Linked DNA regions of Homo sapiens. The protein of the gene in region 4 purifies or fractionates together with the protein of the main gene of each other region. This does not show direct contact. Each region holds a gene or a part of one and is shown on either strand. Other genes may lie near its edges.

Region 1 (4,966 bases), about 22 Mb from region 4:
ATCTTATTTTTACCTTTGTTCCTTAACAATCTAATAATTGTCTCCCTACGTGAGATGGTAAATTGGTGTGTAGATAACTAAGTAAATGTCGCTAAGTGAGACTTTGGCAACTTCATGGAATATTCATCATCAAGTCAACCTGCTTCCCAGGCTTCCCGTGGCTCCTTACTGCAACAAACAGGGCAAGCTGCCTCCTGGATATCCACTCGCCTCTCTTTCCTTACTGACATAACCCCAGTTTTATGCTTGCAACTATGCAGGTACAGCTACATGACTTAGTCTGGCCAAGGAGAAGTAAACTGACATGCTGTGTGGGACTTCCTGAAATACTCGTCAAAGGGAACCCTTTGCCCTGCTTCCTACCAGTTCCCCTCCTGAAATACGCACACGACAGCCAGAACTCCATCTTGGGCCATGAAGTGACTTCAAGACCAGAAGCCTCACAATAAATGGGGTGGAACAGGAGAGAAGGAATGGGGGCCGGGTGCGGTGCCTCACGCCTGTAATCCCAGCACTTTGGGAGGCAGAGGGGTGGGTGGTTCACTTGAGGTCAGGAATTCGCGAACAGCCTGGCCAACACGACAAAACCCCACCTCTACTAAAAATACAAAAAATAGCCAGGTGTGGTGGCAGGAGCCTGTAATCCCGGCTACTCGGGAGGCTGAGGCAGGAGAATTGCTTGAACCCGGGAGGCAGAGGTTGCAGCAAGCCAAGATCGTGCTGCTGCACTCCAGCCTGGGCAACAGACCAAGACTCCGTCTAGAGAAAAAAAGAAGTGGGGCTGGGCGCGGTGGCTCACGCCTGTAATCCCAGCACTTTGGGAGGCTGAGGTGGGCAGATCACAAGGTCAGGAGATCGAGACCACCCTGGCTAACACGGTGAAACCCTGTCTATACTAAAAATACAAAAACAAAATTAGCCAGGCGTGGTGGTGGGCGCCTGTAGTCCCAGCTACTTGGGAGGCTGAGGCAGGAGAATGGTGTGAACCCAGGAGGCGGAGCTTGCAGTGAGCCAAGATCGCGCCACTGCACTCCAGCCTGGGCAACAGAGTGAGACTCTGTCTCAAAAAGAGAGACAGAAAAAAAAAATGTGGCGTTCAGAGACACAGCCCCTGGGCTGCCCACCTCTGGACTTATGACATGCAGGAAGAGCATGCTCTTGGGTTTTAAGCCATGCTGTGGAGGGGTTTCTGTTGCCCGTAGCCACCTCTAACCTGTCGCATGCCCTGACCTTGTGCCTGGCCCTCTGGCAAATGCTGTCTGGCCATCAGTGCACTGATTCCTCAAGCATGCTTCATGGAGTCAGGGCTCTCATGAACCAACTTGGCAGATGAGGTGACTGCAACACAAGGAAGTCCCCTGCCTGCAGTTACCTAACCAGACAGGGCAGAGCCCTGACCTCTAAGCCAGTAGTTCTCAGTCCTGGCTGTACATTAGATTTCCCTGGGGAGCATCTGAAAAGTGTCAAAGCCTAAGATTAGTTGAGTGAAAGTTTGGTGAGGAACAAGATAATATTTGCACTGTCTCAGGAAAGATGTCCCCAGGATACCTGCTAATCACAAAGGTGAAAAGAGAGGCTTTGAAGTGGAGGAATCTGGCAGGCAACACCTTGGCCAAGTGCTCCCAGTGAACACCACCAGTCATAGGAGACCTCCTGAGAGGAGGCACCAGGAAGAACACAGCACCCCTTCTGGTCTGTTCCTGCCAAAGATGCAGAACCTGAGTCTGCCCGTGAGGAGGCATTGGACAAACCCAAATGCTGGGACACTCTACAAAATACCTCGTCTACAATCCTCAGTGTCAAGATTGGCCGGGTGCAGTGGCTCAAGCCTGTAATCCCAGCACTTTGGGAGGCCGAGGCGGGTGGATCACGAGGTCAGGAGTTCGTGACCAGCCTGACCAACATAGTGAAACCCCGTCTCTACTAAAAAAAAATACAAAAATTAGCCAGGCACGGTGGCGCATGCCTGTAGTCCCAGCTACTCAGGAGGCTGAGGCAGAGAATCGCTTGAACCCAGGAGGTGGAGGCTGCAGCGAGCCAAGATCGCCCCACTGCACTCCAGCCCGGGCGACAGTGTGAGACTTCGTCTCAAAAAACAAAAAAACAAAAAAAAGTGGCCAGGTGCTGTGGCTCACGCCTGTAATCCCAGCACTTTGGGAGGCCAAGGCGGGCGGATCACAAGGTCAGGAGATCGAGACCATCCTGGCCAACATGGGGAAACCCCAGCTCTACTAAAAATACAAAAATTAGCCGGACATGGTGGCATATGCCTGTAATCCTAGCTACTCGGGAGGCTGAGGCAGGAGAATCACTTGAACTGGGGAGTCAGGTTGCAGTGAGCCAGGATCCCACCACTGCACTCCAGCCTGACGACAGAGACTCCATCTCAAAAAGAAAAAAAAAAATGTCAAGATCCTGAAAGTCAAGAAAAGACAGAGGAGCCACGTCAGCCTGAAAGAGACTGAGGGGACAACTCAATGCAATGTGTGATTCTAGACAGAATCCTTTGGCCATAAAGGACATTCATGGGACAAAGGCTGACTCCTGAATGGTGCCCTCTGGGGAGTGGATGAGAGTGATATATCAATTTTCATTTCCTGATTTTGCTGGATGTATTACAGTTTAAAAAGATTGTCATTTTTTTTTGTAGGAAATACACACTGAAGTATTTATTTGATTAAGTTTTTTTTTTTTTTTTTTTTTTTTTTGAGACGGACTCTTGCTCTGTCACCCAGGCTGGAGTGCAGTGGCATGATCTTGGCTCACTGCAACCTCTGCCTCCCGGGTTCAAGCGATTCTCCTGCCTCAGCCTCCCGAGTAGCTGGGATTACAGGCGCCTGCCACCAGGCCTGGCTAATTTTTGTATTTTTAGTAGAGACAGGGTTTTGCCATGTTCCCCAGGCTGGTCTCAAACTCCTGACCTCAAATGATCTTCCTGCCTCCAAGGCCTCCCACAGTGCTGAGATTACAGGCGTGAATCACCATGCCTGGCGTGAAGTATTTAGAGATATAGGGGCATCATGTCTACAACTGATTCTCAAATAGTTCAGAACAAATTAATATGTATATAGACAAAAAATGATAAAGCAAATGTGGTAAAATGCTAACATTTGGCCAAGTGCAGTGGCTCGCACCTGTAATCCTAGCACTTTGGGAGGCTGAGGCAGGCAGACTGTCTAAGCTCAGGAGTTCAAGACCACCTTGGGCAACATGATGAACCCCGTCTCCACTAAAACACAAAAAACTAGCTGGGCATGGTGGCACATGCCTGTGGTCCCAGCCACCTGGGGGGCTGAGGCATGAGAATCACCTGAACCCGGGAGGTGGAAGTTGCAGTGAGCTGAGACTGTGCCACTGCACTCCAGCAGCCTGGGTGACAGAGCAAGACTCTGTGTCCAAAAAAAAAAAAGAAAAAAAAGCTAACATTTGTGAAATATGTGAAAGGTACATAGGTATATAGGAGCTCTTTGTACTATTCTAAGTCTGAAATTATTTCAATATAAAAAGTCTCAAAATTGCCAATGCCCAAGTTTCATCCCAGATCAACTGATTTGGCTTTCTCTTGCGTGGCGGTGGGGGGGCGGTGAGGCACAGGGACCAGGTGATTCTGATATGCAGTTGGAGTGAAAATCCCCACACTGGCCACACCACCTCCTAATGCACACCCACTGGTGGCCAAGGGCGGACACCTGCATACCATCTACTATAGATCCAGGCCACCCACTCCACTGCCTACAGGGATTAGGGAGGCAACACAGGTGTGAGGAACTGGCCACAACGGGCCTGACAAATTTCACTAAGCTCAGCCCCTCACTGCCACAGGGGAATTTGGGCCCCAGAGGCCAGAGAATTTCTCACTTCTCCAAACAAAAGGGACATTTGGATTTTTGTGTTAAAAAACTTGAAATGTTGTCCACTTATCCAACCTTTAAAACATACTATATTGGGCAAGTGTGTGTGACTCTGGTTTGTAGCTGCTGCCTTATGAATGCTCTCCCAGTTGGAGGCAGCTATTTTATTTTCAGAGGAGACCAAGGCTCTGAAAGAAGTGTCTCACCTGAGATTCCACAGTGAATAGACGCTTGAGCCAGGAATGGAACCCAGCTCTGCCCTTATCACCAGTAACAGAACCCACAGTTAGGAGCAAAAGGTCCAAAAAGCCACTTTCAAGAGGGAATGCACTTCTGTCAGATAACAAGAACCTGCCGTAGCTTAAGGACCGTACCTTAGGGACCATAAGGGCAGGAGAAAACCCACTCCTTATCCATCCACCTGGAGAACTGGGCCAAAGGAGCTGAGCCTGAGCTATGCCAAGGAGGGACATGGTGTGCCTTCCAAAGGTCACAGCCCTATTGGGACCACATCCCCAGGGTAGCAGTGATCAGTTAGCCCCAAGGCAGAGGAGCGGGTCCTTCCCCAGTAAACTTATAGCTGAAGGGATCTTTCTAAAACCCAAATCATGTTAAGTCTTTCTCTTAGAAAATAGCCATCAATATGCCAGATACTGCTCTTTGGTGCTAGGGACACAGAAATGAACTCAGAGAAAGTCCCTGCTCTCAAGAGTGCTCACACTGAGGGAGACCCACAGTGAATACCATCAATGAGGAAACTGGACAGCATATCAGAGATGGGAGCAAATTTTGTGGAGAAAAGCAAAGCAGGGAATAGAGCTGCTGGAGGGCTGGGGGTGAAAAGCACATTCCTGGCCTGTGGTGCCCTCCTGTGGCTGCTCTCTGCACTCAGCATGCTATGCAGACCCTCTACAAGGCTGCAAGGCCTACGGGATGTGGCTTCTGCCTGGTCCAGCCTCATCTTCCCTGCTCCTTTCTCCAGGCACCCAGATCCCTGGCTGCTTCTAAAGCGCCGGAGATTCTTAACCACTGCAGGGCCTTTGCCCTTCCTGTGCCCCCTGCCTGAAGCGCTCTCCCTACAGCTTCTTATGGGTCACCCTCTCGCTTCCTTCAGG
Region 2 (4,966 bases), on a different chromosome or scaffold from region 4:
CCTTGGCCTGGGATGTTATTATCCTTCAGTCTTCTTTCCAGGACATCCCCTGATGCCCTTGGTTGGCAATGTCCCTGTTTCCCTAGGGGACTGACTGAGGTCTGAGGGCCCTGGTCACATGGGGCCCTCGCCAGGTGATGCTGTGGGACCTCAGCACTGCAGCCCTCAGTGAGGGCACATCTACCACGGGCGTGTCTAGCATGGCCTGTCTCCTCCCCTCCCATGCCCCTCCCAATGCCGCTCACCAGAAGCGGTGCAAAGTGATGGAAGATGTGGGCCAGTGTGAGGAGGACGGTGGGCTGGCCCCGCAACCGCCACTTGGAGCTCTCCTTGTCCAACAGCCGCCCCTCCTGTGTGGAGGGGGAGGAGGGAGAAGTGTGAGGGGCAGGAGGCTGTGGAAGCCCCCCACCCCGCCTGGCCCAGACCCCAGCTCACCACAGGGTCCAGCTCCACACTCAGCACTGCCCGGAAGCAGCCCAGCAACCTCTGTGCCCGCACCAGGTCAGCACTCGGTGGGTCCTGCAGGGGCCGGTAGCCTGCCACTGGGTAGGTGCCAGAGTTAAGCCAGCAACGCCTTATCTGTGGCTCAGACATGCCTACTCCCTCTCCACTGCCCACCCCCCACCCCGGGGCCTGGGCTCTAGGGCAGGGCTGGTTTGCATCACAACTTGCCCACTTATTCTCCCTAGGGAGGATGCTTCACATTCCTCATCTGTTCAGTGGAGACAAGGGCACCCAACCAACCAGGCTGCTGCGAGGAAAGTTTTCTTCGACACTCTACATGGCCCCCCACTAACTCTGCAGCAGCCAGGGCCTGCCACCAGCCCATGGCACCCCTGGGGTAGGGAGCCCCTCATCCCAGCCTCCCCAAGAGCTTCTGAGCAGCCCACAGCCATCTTCACAAAATGATATCGCAGAGGACGGCTGCCAAAGTTGAAGGCCACGGACTCCTTGAAAGAGAGGCTGATGGCTGGGAAGTAGGCCATACCCAGGCCCCTGGACAGGTTCTCAAAGGCAGTGCCCAGTGATACACCGTTCCTGGGGAGAAGGGTGGGTCTGTGAGCCAGTGCTAAGCATGTGGCTGCCCACCCTCAGGCTATCAAACTCAGTCTGGCCCCTTACAGGGCCCAGGAAACTGGGGGCAGTCTGGGGAGGCCCCAGGGGCCAGGCCTGTGCATAGAGATAGGAAACTCACAGGCAGAAGGACAGAGTGCCATCATCCAGGTCAATCAGGCAGCTCACGATGTCCCCCGCTGCCCACGCCTGCCATGAGAGGAGGCCTCACCAGATGCACAGAAGCCCAGCAGCCTGCTGACTCTGAACCCCAGCTGCGTTTCCAGAACCACCCAAGGGAGACTAGCCACAAGGACAAAGGACCTGGGTCCCTGACCCTTCCCTGGTGCCCTGTAGTCCCTTATGGCTGCCCAGTGGCTCCAAATAAGCTGTAGTAACAGTCATGGGGCGGATGACCCACAGGGGCTTGGCTCTCACCTTGCCATAATTCGTTGTGGTCACATTCCACTTGCGCACGCGGTTGCCATCATAGGCATAGGAGTTGTGTGTATCTCCAACCCCCTCCTAGGGAGGAAATGCCTATGAGGTCCCTGGTGAGGCAGGCAGGGTCTGGGCCAGAGCCCACCAATCACCAGCCTTGGATGCATATGGCTCTACAGAAGGGAACAGATGATCTGAGGGAAAGAGTAAGAGGTATTCTCTGAGCTGGGGTGCCTGGGATTGGGTGGGACACGTTTCTTCTCCAGAGGGCAGTCCAGGTTAGTTAGGGTCCTAGGCAGTTCTGAGGGGATCTGGAGACCTGATGAGGCCTGTGGCAGGAGAAGCTCTCCCTGGGCCCAGGGAGGGGTCCCCTCCCCAACGTGTACCTCCTGGTTGAAGCGGCAGCTGATGGTGCACCAGCCGATCTGCATGAGCCCCTGGGAGGAGATGAGGACCTCGTAGAGCCATTTCCCTGGAAAGAGCTGAGTTAGGGCCACGAGGTGGACAAAGACTGCCTCTTGCCTCATGCCTGGGCCCTTAAACTTTCTCCTCACTACCTAGGCCACAGCAGGGTAAGGTCTCACCTTTGTACACGCATGTGGTAGAGCGGATGGTGCCAAAGTTGCTGTGTCCAATCACCTGGGTGAAGAAGAGGGGTGGTGGGCTAGCTCCCAGGCACACAGAGCATCTCCCCAAGGGAAAAAGACCCCATCCCCAACTGAGCCAGCCCTGGTGGTATTTGCCTGTGGCGGCCAACACTGCACTGTGCCTGAGGACGGTGGGAGCGGGTAGGCTTGTATCAGGAAGGATCCTGGGCCAAGGCAGGATGAGAGAGGGACTCAGGGCTGTGCTGGGAAGGGCTGGGGGCTGAGTCCACATCAAGACTGTTTCAGGGCTTTAGTGGGAGAGTTTGAGGACTGAGAACACAATGGTCTGGGGCCACGTCAGGACAAGTTTTGGCTGCAGCCCCATCAGATGAGTAGAGAGACTAGGGCCACATCAGGAGGAGCCTGGGGCTATGTCAGAAGGGGCTGGACCTGGGTCTCCACACCTCACCCTCACTCACCCCCAGCAGGTCATCATCCACCAGGAGAAGCCCCTCAAAGCCGCCTGTGTGGTCCAGGACCACAGTGGATGGGCCAAGCCGCCCTTCAACCTGTCCTGAAAAGAGGAGAGGTGGGGTCAGGCAGGGTGGAGCATTTGACAGGATGCATAGGGTGTCCTGAGCTCACCAGACGTCTCCAGGCCCGCTACGTCCCAGCTCTGCACCTCCCAACCCCACTCCAGAGGTGGCCACATACCCTGGCTTTCCTCCTCCTCATTGTCCACCTGTAGCAACTGGTCCAAATGTTCTGGCAGGTTCTGGAAGTTCAGGGGTTTCCTGGGGAGAGTGAGAGGCTGCCAGGGGTCCACAAGTCCTTGAAATCAGCCAGATGACACTAAATCCCATCCTTTCCCCTGAGCTCACAGGGGGGCTGCCTAGACTCCAGAAAAAGGGCTGTGCCTAGTCCTAGACTCTGGCATGCAGGAGGTCAGAAGGCCGAATTCTCCACTAAACTCAAAAGTATAACCAGTCCAGGCCGGGTGTGGTGGCCCATGCCTGTAATCCCAGCACTTTGGGAGGCCGAGGCGGGCAGATCACCTGAGGTCAGGAGTTCGAGACCAGCCTGGCCACATGGTGAAACCCCATCCCTACTAAAAATACAAAAATTAGCTGAGTGTGGTGGCGCATGCGTATAATCCCAGCTACTCGGGAGACAGAGGCAGGAGAATAGCTTGAACCTTGGTGGGGCAGAGGTTGTAGTAAGCCAAGATCGTGTCATTGTACTTCAGCCCGGGCAACAAGAGTAAGACTCTGTCTCAAAAAAAAAAAAAAAAAAAGTATGTGGCCAGGTGCGGTGGCTCATGCCTGTAATCCCAGCACTTTGGGAGGCTGAGGCGGGCAGATCACGAGGTCAGTAGTTCAAGACCAGCCTGGCCAACATGGTGAAATTGCGACTCTACTAAAAATGCTGGGCGCGGTGGCATGTGCCTGTAATACCAGCTACTTGGGAGGCGGAGGCAGGAGAATTGCTTGAACCTGGGAGGCGGAGGTTGCAGTGAGCCATGATCGTGCCACTGCACTCTAGTCTGGGTGACAGAGCAAGACTCTGTCTCAAAAAAAAAAAAAAAAAGTAGCCCTCTCTAAGTCTTAATTCCTTCATCTGTAAAAACAGAATAGTGACTTATGTTAGAGATGCTGTGAAGAGCCCAGGGAATAACAAGTGCTGTCTGCATAGCACATAACCTGTCCGCTCTCAAAGGTGGCTGTGCTGATGATGTCTGGAAGAAGAAGGCTGGGAGAAATGCTGGTTCCCAAAGTGGTCAGTACCAAGGCCACCTAGTCCAACCCTTGCCCCTAGGCCTGTGGTTCCTTTGGGGCAGATTCCAGTCTCGCCACCACCCAGCCAGGGGAGTCTGTGTTGAATGGGACATGTTCTGGAAGTATGAAAGGCTCAGCCCTCTGAGCTGCTGGATGGCTCTGTCCTGTACCCGCCAGTCCATAAATGGTCAGCGGAGCACATGACCCACCTACCCGAGCCAAAGGAGTTGGGAAAAATCTGTCTGGGTGGCCCCCTCATCCTCTCAACACACAGGCCTAGAGGGAAAAGGGTACTGTCTAATGCCAGTCAGTGCTGTCCTGAGCTCAGCTGCTAAGAATAGCAGGGAGTGAGGTGGTGGTAACCAGCAGGACTCAGGCAGAACAGAGGCCCATTACACACCTGGCTGCCCACAGGGTGCCACCACCTGCTCTTCCACCTTTAATGCCAGTTCTTACCCCACTCATCCACACAGACAGAAAGCTCTGGAAGGGGACAAAGGTTGGACAAGCACCCTGACAAAGTAGCCACTACCCAGGCTCAGGGATCACATATTCCCCAGTGTAAGCCACTCCCAGCCCTGAGCTGTAGGAGCAGAGATGCACAAAGGCCCCTCCCCACTGCTGCTCTGTCCCAGGCCAAGGCCAGGTGGTGGCTATGCAGTCGGGGTGCTCAGCTAGTAGCATAGAAGGCTAAAGCCAACCCCATCTCTGAATACCCCAGTGGGCCCAAGGATAAAGGAGCCTTCCTCAAAAGCAGTTACAGGCCAAGCATGGTGGCTCACACCTGTAGTCTCAGCACTTTGGGAGGCTGAGGTGGGAGAATCACTTGAGCCCAGGGGTTTGAGACCAGCCTGGGTGACACAGTAAGACCCTGTCTCTTAAAAAAAAAAAATTAGCTGGGTGCTGTGGCATGTGCTTGTGGTCCCAGCTATGTGGGAGGCTGAGGTGGGAGGATTCCTTGAGCCTGGGACTTTGAGGTTGCAGTGAGCTATGACTGTGACATAGCGAGACCCTGTCTCAAAAGAAAACAGTTCTTAACAAGCCCACACTTGGAGCAGCTACTCTTGTACCTGACCCCAAAAGTCGTGTGCCTGATCCTGAGAGCAGACT
Region 3 (4,966 bases), on a different chromosome or scaffold from region 4:
GGGAATTGGCTCTCAAGTATAGCTTGCTTTGGAGAAGTGTGCCATAGGCTTGTATCTGTCTTTACCATTCAAGACTGGACTTACACGTAAATGTGCACTAAATAGCACATTTTAAAGTTTTTTTTAATGGAAACTATTTTGCTAGACCATACAAATGAATCAGGCAGGCTGTTAGAAGGCCCTGCCAGAGATCAAGTTTGGTGTGTCTGAAACTGTTGTGTTTGACCCTGAGGGACCTTGTGTGAACAGTTCTTGCTTAGGTTTCTACTGCTTTTCACTGATTTAGGATCTGCTGTGTTTTCTGTTGGTTAAAACTTGATAATAGTAAAACTTACAGCAGAATACTCGTCCAGAAAGATGTCTTATTGACGTTCATTTATTAAGCTGCTTTCTTTACTTCCATTTCAGATTTGTCCAATATGTGCAGCGTTACCTGGAGGCGATCCTAATCATGTCACGGATGACTTTGCAGCTCATCTTACACTTGAACACAGAGCCCCTAGAGATTTAATATCCTTTTAAGAGATGACAAGGAAAAGAGTTGTTTGTAATGTTTGTCATTTTGATTTTTTGTTTTGGAGACAAGATCTCGCTGTGTCGACCTGGCTGGTCTCAAACTCCTGAGCTCAAGTGATCCTCCTGCTTCAGCCTCTTGAGTAGCTGGGACTATAGGCACACATGTGCCACTGCATCCAGCTTGTCATTTTGATTTTTTTTAAGGATCATATCCCCCAAAAGAGGAAAAGTAATGTCCAAATTATTTTTACTTATTTGAACTTTTCCTAAAAGTGACTCAGTGCTGAGATGCAATTTATTTCTCTTTTTATATACTATCACCATTGTATGAACCATTTTCATTAAGTGAAAGTTGACTTGTCCTTCATCTTTAGTTCATTACAATTAGATTTTTTTTAAGGCAGTTTGACCAAATTGTGTCTTCCAGGATGGCGTTTTCATACAAAAGAGGAAAATGTTAATCCAAATTAAAATTTAATTAGTTAAATATGAAGAGGCATTATTTGCTTTCCCTCTCTGTTCCTCTGCTGCCTTACCCTGTTGTGGGTGTGGTGTGGTGAGATGGTGGGGACAGGTGTGCATCTTGGTGTTCCTTTCCTTTTTGGGGTCCCCTTCTCCAGAGAGAGCCATTTCCTGCCGAGTTCCTGAGTAGGATAGCATAAGGTCAGCTCTAGCTTTAAATTTCCTTTCCTGCTTTTCTTTTCTTTTCTTTTTTTTTTAAAAGTCGGAGTCTTGCTCTGTCAGCCAGGCTGGAGTACAATGGTGCTATCTTCAGCTTATTGCAACCTCCACCTCCTGGATTCAAGTAATTCTCCTGCCTCAGCCTCCCAAGTAGCTAAGATTACAGGTGCCCGCCACCACACCCAGCTAATTTTTGTATTTTTAGTAGAGATGGGGTTTCACCATATTGGCCAGGCTGGTCTCTTGGCCATGCTGGTCTTGAACTCCTGACTGCCTGCCTCAGCCTCCCAAAGTGCTGGGATTACAGGCATGAACCACTGCGCCTGGCCAATTTTTGTATTTTTTTAGTAGAGATGGGGTTTCACCATGTTGGCCAGGCTGGTCTCGAACTCCTGACCTCAGGTGATCTGCCCACCTCAGCTTCCCAAAGTGCTGGGATTCAGGCGTGAGCCACCACGCCCAGCCTCTTGCTTTTATTTCTGCATTCCCTTCCTTGTCTCTCAACAGTTTCTGGCAGTGTTCCCTGAGATTACTGGCCTACCAGAGCGATTAATTTTGTGGACTCAATGCTTCTGATTTCAGGTTATGAATTGTTCGTCTAAAACTGTCACCAGCTGGGTACAGTGGCTCATGCCTATACTCCCAGCACTTTGAAAGGCCAAGGTGGGAGGATCACTTGAGCCTAGAAGTTTGAAACCAACCTGGACAACATAGGAAGACCCCATCTCTACCAAAATAATGAGCTCAGCTGGTGGCACACACCTGTGGTCCCAGCTACTCAAGAGGCTGAGGTAGGAGGATCACTTGAGCCCATGAGCTCAAGGCTGCAGTAAGCTATGATTGCACCACTGCACTCCAGCCTGGCAACAAAGTGAGACCCTGTCTCAAGATACATATATATATGTATATATAATCATAATATAAAATTATCAAATATATAAATATGATCATATCACTTTCTCTAGAACCCAAACCATCCTCATGAATATGATGGAACAGGGCATGTACCGTGACACCTGAAGGCCTCTTGGAGCTACCCATCCGGTCCTTAAATAACTCCAGAACCATCAGCTGAAAAACTGAGAAGCCAGCCAAAAAATTAATCTGCATTATAAAGCTGGTCTGTTTGGTACTTTAAAGGAAAAATCTCTTCTATATGATCTGGCCTCCCCCACCTCTCATTTGCCTTTGTGGAAACGTAAGGTTGTCTTCATGAGTTTTGACAGCTATTTGCAACTCAGGACCTTTTTCAGTTTGACTTACACTCAGCTGTGTAAGACGGTTGAGGCTGCTGGGAATTTTTCTTCGTGATAAATGTCATGTTAATCTATCTGTGTGTCTTATACAAGAAATGCAAATCTGTTTTCTGCTTAGCAGCGGCATTGGAAAGAAGCTTGAAGACAGAGTAAAACTAATAATCCAAAAGGAACCTTTGATGTGCTGAATATACATTCAGTATTGTTCCTTTTTCATTATAGGTGGTATTTGAGATTTCATGAGCTATATAGAGAAACTTTTTTACCTCACACACCCAATACACACACACACACTCACATGTTGCCTTACATTTGAGTGTCTTTTTAGGGTTAATAGCCCTCATAGATAGAGTTGGGACATTTGCACTTTAAGTTAAATGTGCTGTTTTTAAATGCTTACAATTCAGGAAATCTTTACATCTGTCTAGCAAGGACTCAGGTGATTTTTTTTCTTTCTGTGAAATACTTTCGTTTTTTTCTTAACTTTTGGGTTATGATGAATCGAGTGGTGTTCGACATGTACGTAGAATGTTTCACCCTGGCCGGGGATTAGGAGGTCCTCGTGCTCGTAGATCAAACATGCACTTTACTAGCAGTTCTACTGGTGGACTTTCTTCTTCTCAGAGTTCATATTCTCCAAGCAATAGGGAAGCCATGGATCCTATAGCTGGTAAGTTAGTTTCACATTAATAAGGGAAATGGCAGGGGAAGGAGGAGCTCCTTTTAAAACTTTTTGTGATGCCAGGTGCGGTGGCTCACACCTTTAATCCCAGCACTCTGGGAGGCTGGAGCGGGTGGATCACTTGAGGCCAGGAATTCAAGACCAGCCTGGCCAACATGGCAAAACTCCATCTCTACTAAAAATAAAAAAATTAGCCAGATTTGGTGGTGGGTGCCTGTAATCGCAGCTACTCTGGATGCTGAGGCATGAGAATCGCTTGAGCCTGAAAGGTGGAGGTTCCAGGGAGCCGAGATCGCACCACTGCAGTCCAGCCTGGGTGATGGAGTGAGACCCTGTCTCAAAAAAAAAAAAAAAAACTTTTTGTGAGATTTGTGTTCTTAAGTCTCACCTCTCTGATCATAAGCCATGTTCCTTCACAAAATTCCCAAATACATTAAAAGTGTAAAATGTGTTAAAAGCAGACACTTAACATAAAGTAATTCATACTCTTCTGGCATTGCTTAAGTCCAGTAGTCCCCCCGTCATGTGGTTTTGCTTTCCTGGGTTTCAGTTACCCACAACCAACTACAGTCAAAAAATAGGTGAGTACAGGACAATAAGATACTTAGAGAGAGACCACATCACATAACTTTCATAGTATATTTTTAGATTTACTCTATTTTGTTGGGAATCTCATGTTCCTAATTTATAAATTAGGTGCCTAATTTATAAATTAAACTTTAGCACAACAGATAAGTATGTATAGGAAAAAACATAGTATGTATAGGGTTCTGTATTATCCAAATGCCCATTTCAGCCATTCACTGGGGGTTTTGGAACGTATCTCCTGCAGGTAAAGGGAGACTACTGTTCTTAGAGACAAAAGATGATAAGAAATGGTTTTATGTTGTATTTGTGGCCTCTATTGAAGCCCAAGGAAATCATAAAAGATTTCAACTTGAATACCTCCAAAATGTCATGGTTAAATCTCCATAAGTACACATAAAAAAATGTCCAAAGCACATTTGAAATTAAGGTTTTATAAGGTATAGCTAACATTTTTAAGAACATGTTATGTGTAAAATTCTGTCACAGATTTATGCCTATCTCAGATGTTGTGCAAGGCGCCTCATGGCTTCCAGGTACACATTCCACCACATGGACACATTTCAGAACTGTTATCTATAGCTAATTGAAAAGACTAAAGAATTAAGCTCTTCTCATGGAAGAAAGGAAAGTAGGACTTAATGTCCTGACCTTGATTTGAGAACTATATTGTTGTAGAACATACTGAAAGGTACATGTTTAATAGCTTGGGAAAAATCTTAAAAAAAAAAAAAAAAACACAGTTTTTGAACCTGGCCATGTCACTGAGTCTAGTACATGACAAACCTAGGAAGTTGGTAGCAGAACACAGGGTCAAAATAAAATACAAGAAATCACTGTAGCCTGATAATCTGCAAGACACACCAAGCAGACAAGTGGTAAGACAGTGGGAAGTGTGCACACATTTAAAGCAACAATTCTGAAATGTGTCCATGTGGTGAAGTGTGCACCTACCTGGAAGCCATGAGCACCCTGCAGAACACCTGAAACATTGATAAGTGTAAATCTGTAATAGAAACTGAGAACATCAGAGCTAAATGACAACTTAGGAACACAAAGGAGGAGACAGCAGACACTGGGGGAGGGTAGCAAGAGAGAGAGGAGCAGAAAGATAACTGTTGGGTACTGGGCTTAATTGGGTCCTGGGTGATGTAATAATATGTATGACAAACCCTCGTGGCAGGTGTTTAACTGTGTAACGGACCTTCACATGTACCCCCAAACCTAAAATAAAAATTTAAAAAAG
Region 4 (4,371 bases):
GTGATCTCAGCTCACTGCAAGCTCCGCCTCCCGTCAACCCAGAATTCTATATCCAGTGCAAACACACTTAAAGAACGAAGGCAAAATACAGACATCCTCAAATGAAACAAACCTAAGATATATATTTCTTGCCAGCAGACTTGCCTGAAAAGAAATGCCAAAGGAAACTCTTGGTAGAAGGGAAATGATACCAGAGGGAAAGCGGGAACTTTGGGAATTAAATGATAGTAATAGAGATTGCACAATTATTTTATCTTTAAAATATGGCTGGAGGCGGCTGGGCGCGGTGGCTCACGTCTGTAATCCCAGCACTTTGGGAGGCTGAGGTGGGCGGATCCCAAGGGCAGGAGATGGAGACCATCCTGGCTAACATGTTGAAACCCCATCTCTACTAAAAATACAAAAAAATTAGCTGGGCGTGGTGGTGGGCTCCTGTAATCCCAGCTACTTGGGAGACTGAGGCAGGAGAATGGCATGAACCTGGGAGGCAGAGCTTGCAGTGAGCCGAGATCACGCCACTGCACTCCAGCCTGGGCGACAGAGCAAGACTCTGTCTCAAAAAAAAAAAAAAAAAAAGAAAAAAAATGTGGCTGGAGGCCAGGTGCAGTGTAATCCTAGCACTTTGGGAGGCTGAGGTGGACAGACCACTTGAGCTCAGGAGTTTGAGACCAACATGGCGAAATACTGTCTCTACTAAAGATACAAAAAATGACCGGGTGCGGTGGCTCACGCCAGTACTTTGGGAGGCTGAGGCGGTTGGGATCACAAGGTCAGGAGTTTGAGACCAGCCTGGACAGCATGGTGAAACCCCATCTCTACTAAAAATACAAAAAACTAGCCGGGCATGCTGGTGGGTGCCTGTAGTACCAGCTACTCCGGAGGCTGAGGCAGGAGAATTGCTTGAACCTGGCAGGCGGAGGTTGCAGTGAGCCGAGATCACACCACTGCACTCCAGCCTGGGCAACAGAGTGAGATTCGGGAAAAAAAAAAAAAAAGCAAAAGCAAACAAACAAAACTCAATAGTAAGAAAACAAACAGGCCAGGCACGGTGGCTCATGCCTGTAGTCCCAACACTTTGGAAGGCTGAGGCAGGTGGATCACTTGAGGTCAGGAGTTGAAGACCAGTGTGGCCAACATGGTGAAACCCCCTCTCCACTAAATATACAAAAATCAGCCAGTGTGGTGGCACATGCCTGTAATCCCAGCTACACAGGAGGCTGAGGGAGTTGAATCGCTTGAACCTGGGCGGCGGAAGTTGCAGTGAGCTGAAATCATGCCACTGCACCCCAGCCTGGGCAACAGAGCATGACTCTCTCAAAAAGAAAGAAAAGAGAAGAAAAAAGAAAAGAGAAGAAAAAAGAAAACAACCCAATATTTTAAAGTGTGCAAAATATATAAACAGACATTTCATCAAAGATGCTATATAGATGGCAACTAAGCACTTGGGGAAAAAATGCTTAACATCATCAGACATTAAGGAAACGCAAGGAAAACCACTATTAGATATGTCTACATACCTATTAGAATGGCTAAAATAAACTTTTTAAAAAACTAAGCTGGGGCTGGGCGTGGTGGCTCACCCCTGTAATCCCAGCACTTTGGGAGGCTGAGGCGGGTGGATCACTTGAGCTCAGGAGTTGGAGACCAGCCTGGCCACCCAACAAGGTGAAACCCCATCTCTACTAAAAACATAAAAATTAGCTGGGTGTGGTGGTGGGTGCCTGTCAGCCCAGCTACTCAGGAGGCTGAGGCACGAGAATCACTTGAACCCAGGAGGTAGAGGTTGCTGTGAGCCAAGATCACGCCATTGCACTCCAGCCTGGGCAACAAGAGCAAAATTCTGTCTCAAAAACAAATAAACAAGAAAAGGTTTTAAAAATTGATAAACCACTAGCAAGAAAGAGAGAGAGGACACATCAGGCTTGAGAGAAGTGACATCATCATAGACTGTGCAGACATTAAAAGGCATAGGCATATTAGGAACTAGATATTACTAAGGCAGTAAACCAGATCACTAGCAAATTCGTTGAAAAACACAATTCATCAACTATTGGTTGATAATACTGATACGCATCTTCTGTGTGCCAGGGCCTTGAGGCCCTGCTCCAGGCAGAAACTCGGCAGTGGTTGGGAAGGCATCAGATGTCAGATGGCACAAGAGGACTCAGAGCTGAGGGATAATGGGAAAGAACACAGAGGAATCCAGCCATTTCCACAGCGTCCAGCTCTGCTGTGGGAGGCTGGGAACAGCCCAGCACTACCACCCTGGACTGGGAGGACAAGACCACAAAATGCAGCTTCCCTGAACCTCCTCTTGGTGATGGGGTTGATGTGGTCGAGGTAGAGGTGAGTATGTCTGGAGCCTCAAGCAACTGCCCATACCTGCTGGGACCAGGCCGAGGTGCCCAGGGAGTAAGAGGCAGCATCCTGGAAGAGCACAGATGAAAGAGGCCCTGAGAAGTGTTGGTTGGCCAGGTGCTGTGGCTCACACCTGTAATCCCAACACTTTGGGAGGCTGAGGCGGGAGGATCACTTGAGCCCAAGAGTTCAAGACCAGCCTGGGCAACATAGTGAGACTCATCTCTACAAAAAATAAATAATAGAAAGAAAAATGTGAGTTGGCCAGGCATGGTGGCTCATGCCTGTAGTCCCAGCTACTCAGGAGGCTGAGGTGGGAGGATCACTTAAGGCCAGGAGTTCAAGACAAGCTTGGGCAACACAGTGAGACCCTGTCTACAAAAAATAATAATTAGCCAGACGTGGCGATGCATGCCCAGGCTCCCAGCTACTTGGGAGGCTGAGGCAGGAGGATCGCTTGAGCCTGGGAGGTCAAAACTGCAGTGAGCCGGACTGCAACACTGCACTCCAGCCTGGGTGACAGTGTGAGACCCTGTCTCAAAAAAGAAAAAAGAAAAGAAAACTGTGCTCTTAAGAGCCAGTTCTCCACTCCTCTACCTCAGGAGCCACCCCAGAACCCATCCACTTTGAGGACACGAGATCCCAGCCCACTCAGCCCTGGGAGTCCAAAGACATTTTAAACAGAGCCTCTCTTCACATTTATTAATTCCTGGGAGGAATGAGGGAGGCTTCTCCAGCCCCCCAGAGACCCCGGCCTTGTGCTGCAACAGGAGGGGAGGGAGCCAGTCCAGAATCCCCGGCACTTCTGAGGACACCAACAGCACCCTGGGCCCGCGGCTGCATCAGCTTTCTAGACAACGGGAGAAAAGAGAAATGGTGGAGGAGGGGAAATCCTATGCCCTCCTCCTCGCGGAAATCAAGGCCGACCTCCCTGACGCCCCCCCGGAAGGAAGCGCGTGGTCGGCTGCCAGCCGAGACCCCCATCTGCGCCTCCAGCTGCAGGGCCTTTGCTGGGCGGTTCCTCGCCCGCAATTCCCCCACGAGCCCTGGGGAGACCCAGCGCTAACCAGGGGTGCCCAAGGGAGGAGCCGGGAGAGGCCCTCCTGGAGGTGGGCACAGCCCAGGCAAACATCAGCAGACGGAACCAGCACCCGGGACCCAGGGAAACGTCACCTGCCACCAGGAGCTCCACAGGGTCGCTGAGCTCCGATTCGAAGGTGTGGGGCACCCAGGAGCGGTAGCGGCACCTGTAGTTGCCGGCGTGCTGGGGCCCCACGAAGATCAGCTCGAGGTTCGCCGCGGCCCCGGGGGTGCGGACCGTCTTCACGGCCTTCGTCTCGCCCTCGCGCAGCAGCTCGAAGGTGACGTCGGGGATGGGTCCCTCGCAGCGCAGGACGGCATCTCGGCCCGCCAGGACCGCCCCACTCCACGTCGCCCGGAGCTGAGGCCTGGGAGGGGGTCCTGGGCGGAGCGGGCGGGTGGTCGGGCCAGGCCACGCCCCAGGCCACGCCCCAGGCCACACCCCAGGCCACACCCCAGGCCGCGCCCGCGCCTGCGCCTCAGCCCCGGCTTCATCTTCCCTGTCTTGTTCCTGGGCGCAGAGGGCTCCTCCGGCGCCGCCGAGCTGCGCCCGCTGCCTTCACACCCCGGACATCCGCGCCACACGTGAGTGTCCCCGCACCCCTCCCCCAGGACCGTGGAAGTCCCAGATTCGGGCCTGCTCTGGGGCTTCTGGGGTCCCCAGCCTCGGTCACTCTGACGGGTGAAGGGAAGAAGAAATGATGGAGAAAACGGTGCTCCTTCATGGAGGGACCAAAAAAGGACATACAATCTATGTCAATAGATGAGGGTTTTCCCTCCATAAGTTTAACTTTAAAAGTGTATTTAAGGTGCCGGGCGCAGTGGCTCACACCTGTAATCTCAGCACTTTGAGAGGCCGAGGCAGGCGGATTGCCTGAGCTCAGGAGTTCCAGACCAGCCTGGGTAACACGGTGAAACCCCGTCTCTACTAAA

Evidence for each region.
Region 1: the proteins of A1BG (region 4) and WDR62 purify together in Homo sapiens (affinity purification with mass spectrometry; 2 studies listed by BioGRID and IntAct, with this or other methods). This does not show direct contact.
Region 2: the proteins of A1BG (region 4) and RNF123 purify together in Homo sapiens (affinity purification with mass spectrometry; 2 studies listed by BioGRID and IntAct, with this or other methods). This does not show direct contact.
Region 3: the proteins of A1BG (region 4) and KCMF1 purify together in Homo sapiens (affinity purification with mass spectrometry; 2 studies listed by BioGRID and IntAct, with this or other methods). This does not show direct contact.

The regions. Positions count from the first base shown.
Region 1 is NC_000019.10:36,060,392-36,065,357, reverse strand, and holds part of WDR62 (WD repeat-containing protein 62), read right to left. Parts: intron 1-4,966. UniProt on the Homo sapiens protein: Required for cerebral cortical development. Plays a role in neuronal proliferation and migration.
Region 2 is NC_000003.12:49,695,052-49,700,017, reverse strand, and holds part of RNF123 (E3 ubiquitin-protein ligase RNF123), read right to left. Parts: intron 2,876-4,966; coding exon 2,796-2,875; intron 2,656-2,795; coding exon 2,561-2,655; intron 2,134-2,560; coding exon 2,079-2,133; intron 1,967-2,078; coding exon 1,881-1,966; intron 1,579-1,880; coding exon 1,492-1,578; intron 1,264-1,491; coding exon 1,196-1,263; intron 1,039-1,195; coding exon 913-1,038; intron 551-912; coding exon 436-550; intron 351-435; coding exon 246-350; intron 1-245. UniProt on the Homo sapiens protein: Catalytic subunit of the KPC complex that acts as E3 ubiquitin-protein ligase. Promotes the ubiquitination and proteasome-mediated degradation of CDKN1B which is the cyclin-dependent kinase inhibitor at the G0-G1 transition of the cell cycle.
Region 3 is NC_000002.12:85,043,156-85,048,121, forward strand, and holds part of KCMF1 (E3 ubiquitin-protein ligase KCMF1), read left to right. Parts: intron 1-408; coding exon 409-510; intron 511-2,948; coding exon 2,949-3,123; intron 3,124-4,966. UniProt on the Homo sapiens protein: E3 ubiquitin-protein ligase which accepts ubiquitin from an E2 ubiquitin-conjugating enzyme and then transfers it to targeted substrates, promoting their degradation by the proteasome.
Region 4 is NC_000019.10:58,343,822-58,348,192, forward strand, and holds the end of A1BG (alpha-1B-glycoprotein precursor), read right to left. Parts: intron 3,820-4,371; coding exon 3,532-3,819; intron 3,209-3,531; coding exon 3,201-3,208; 3' UTR 1,362-3,200; downstream 1-1,361.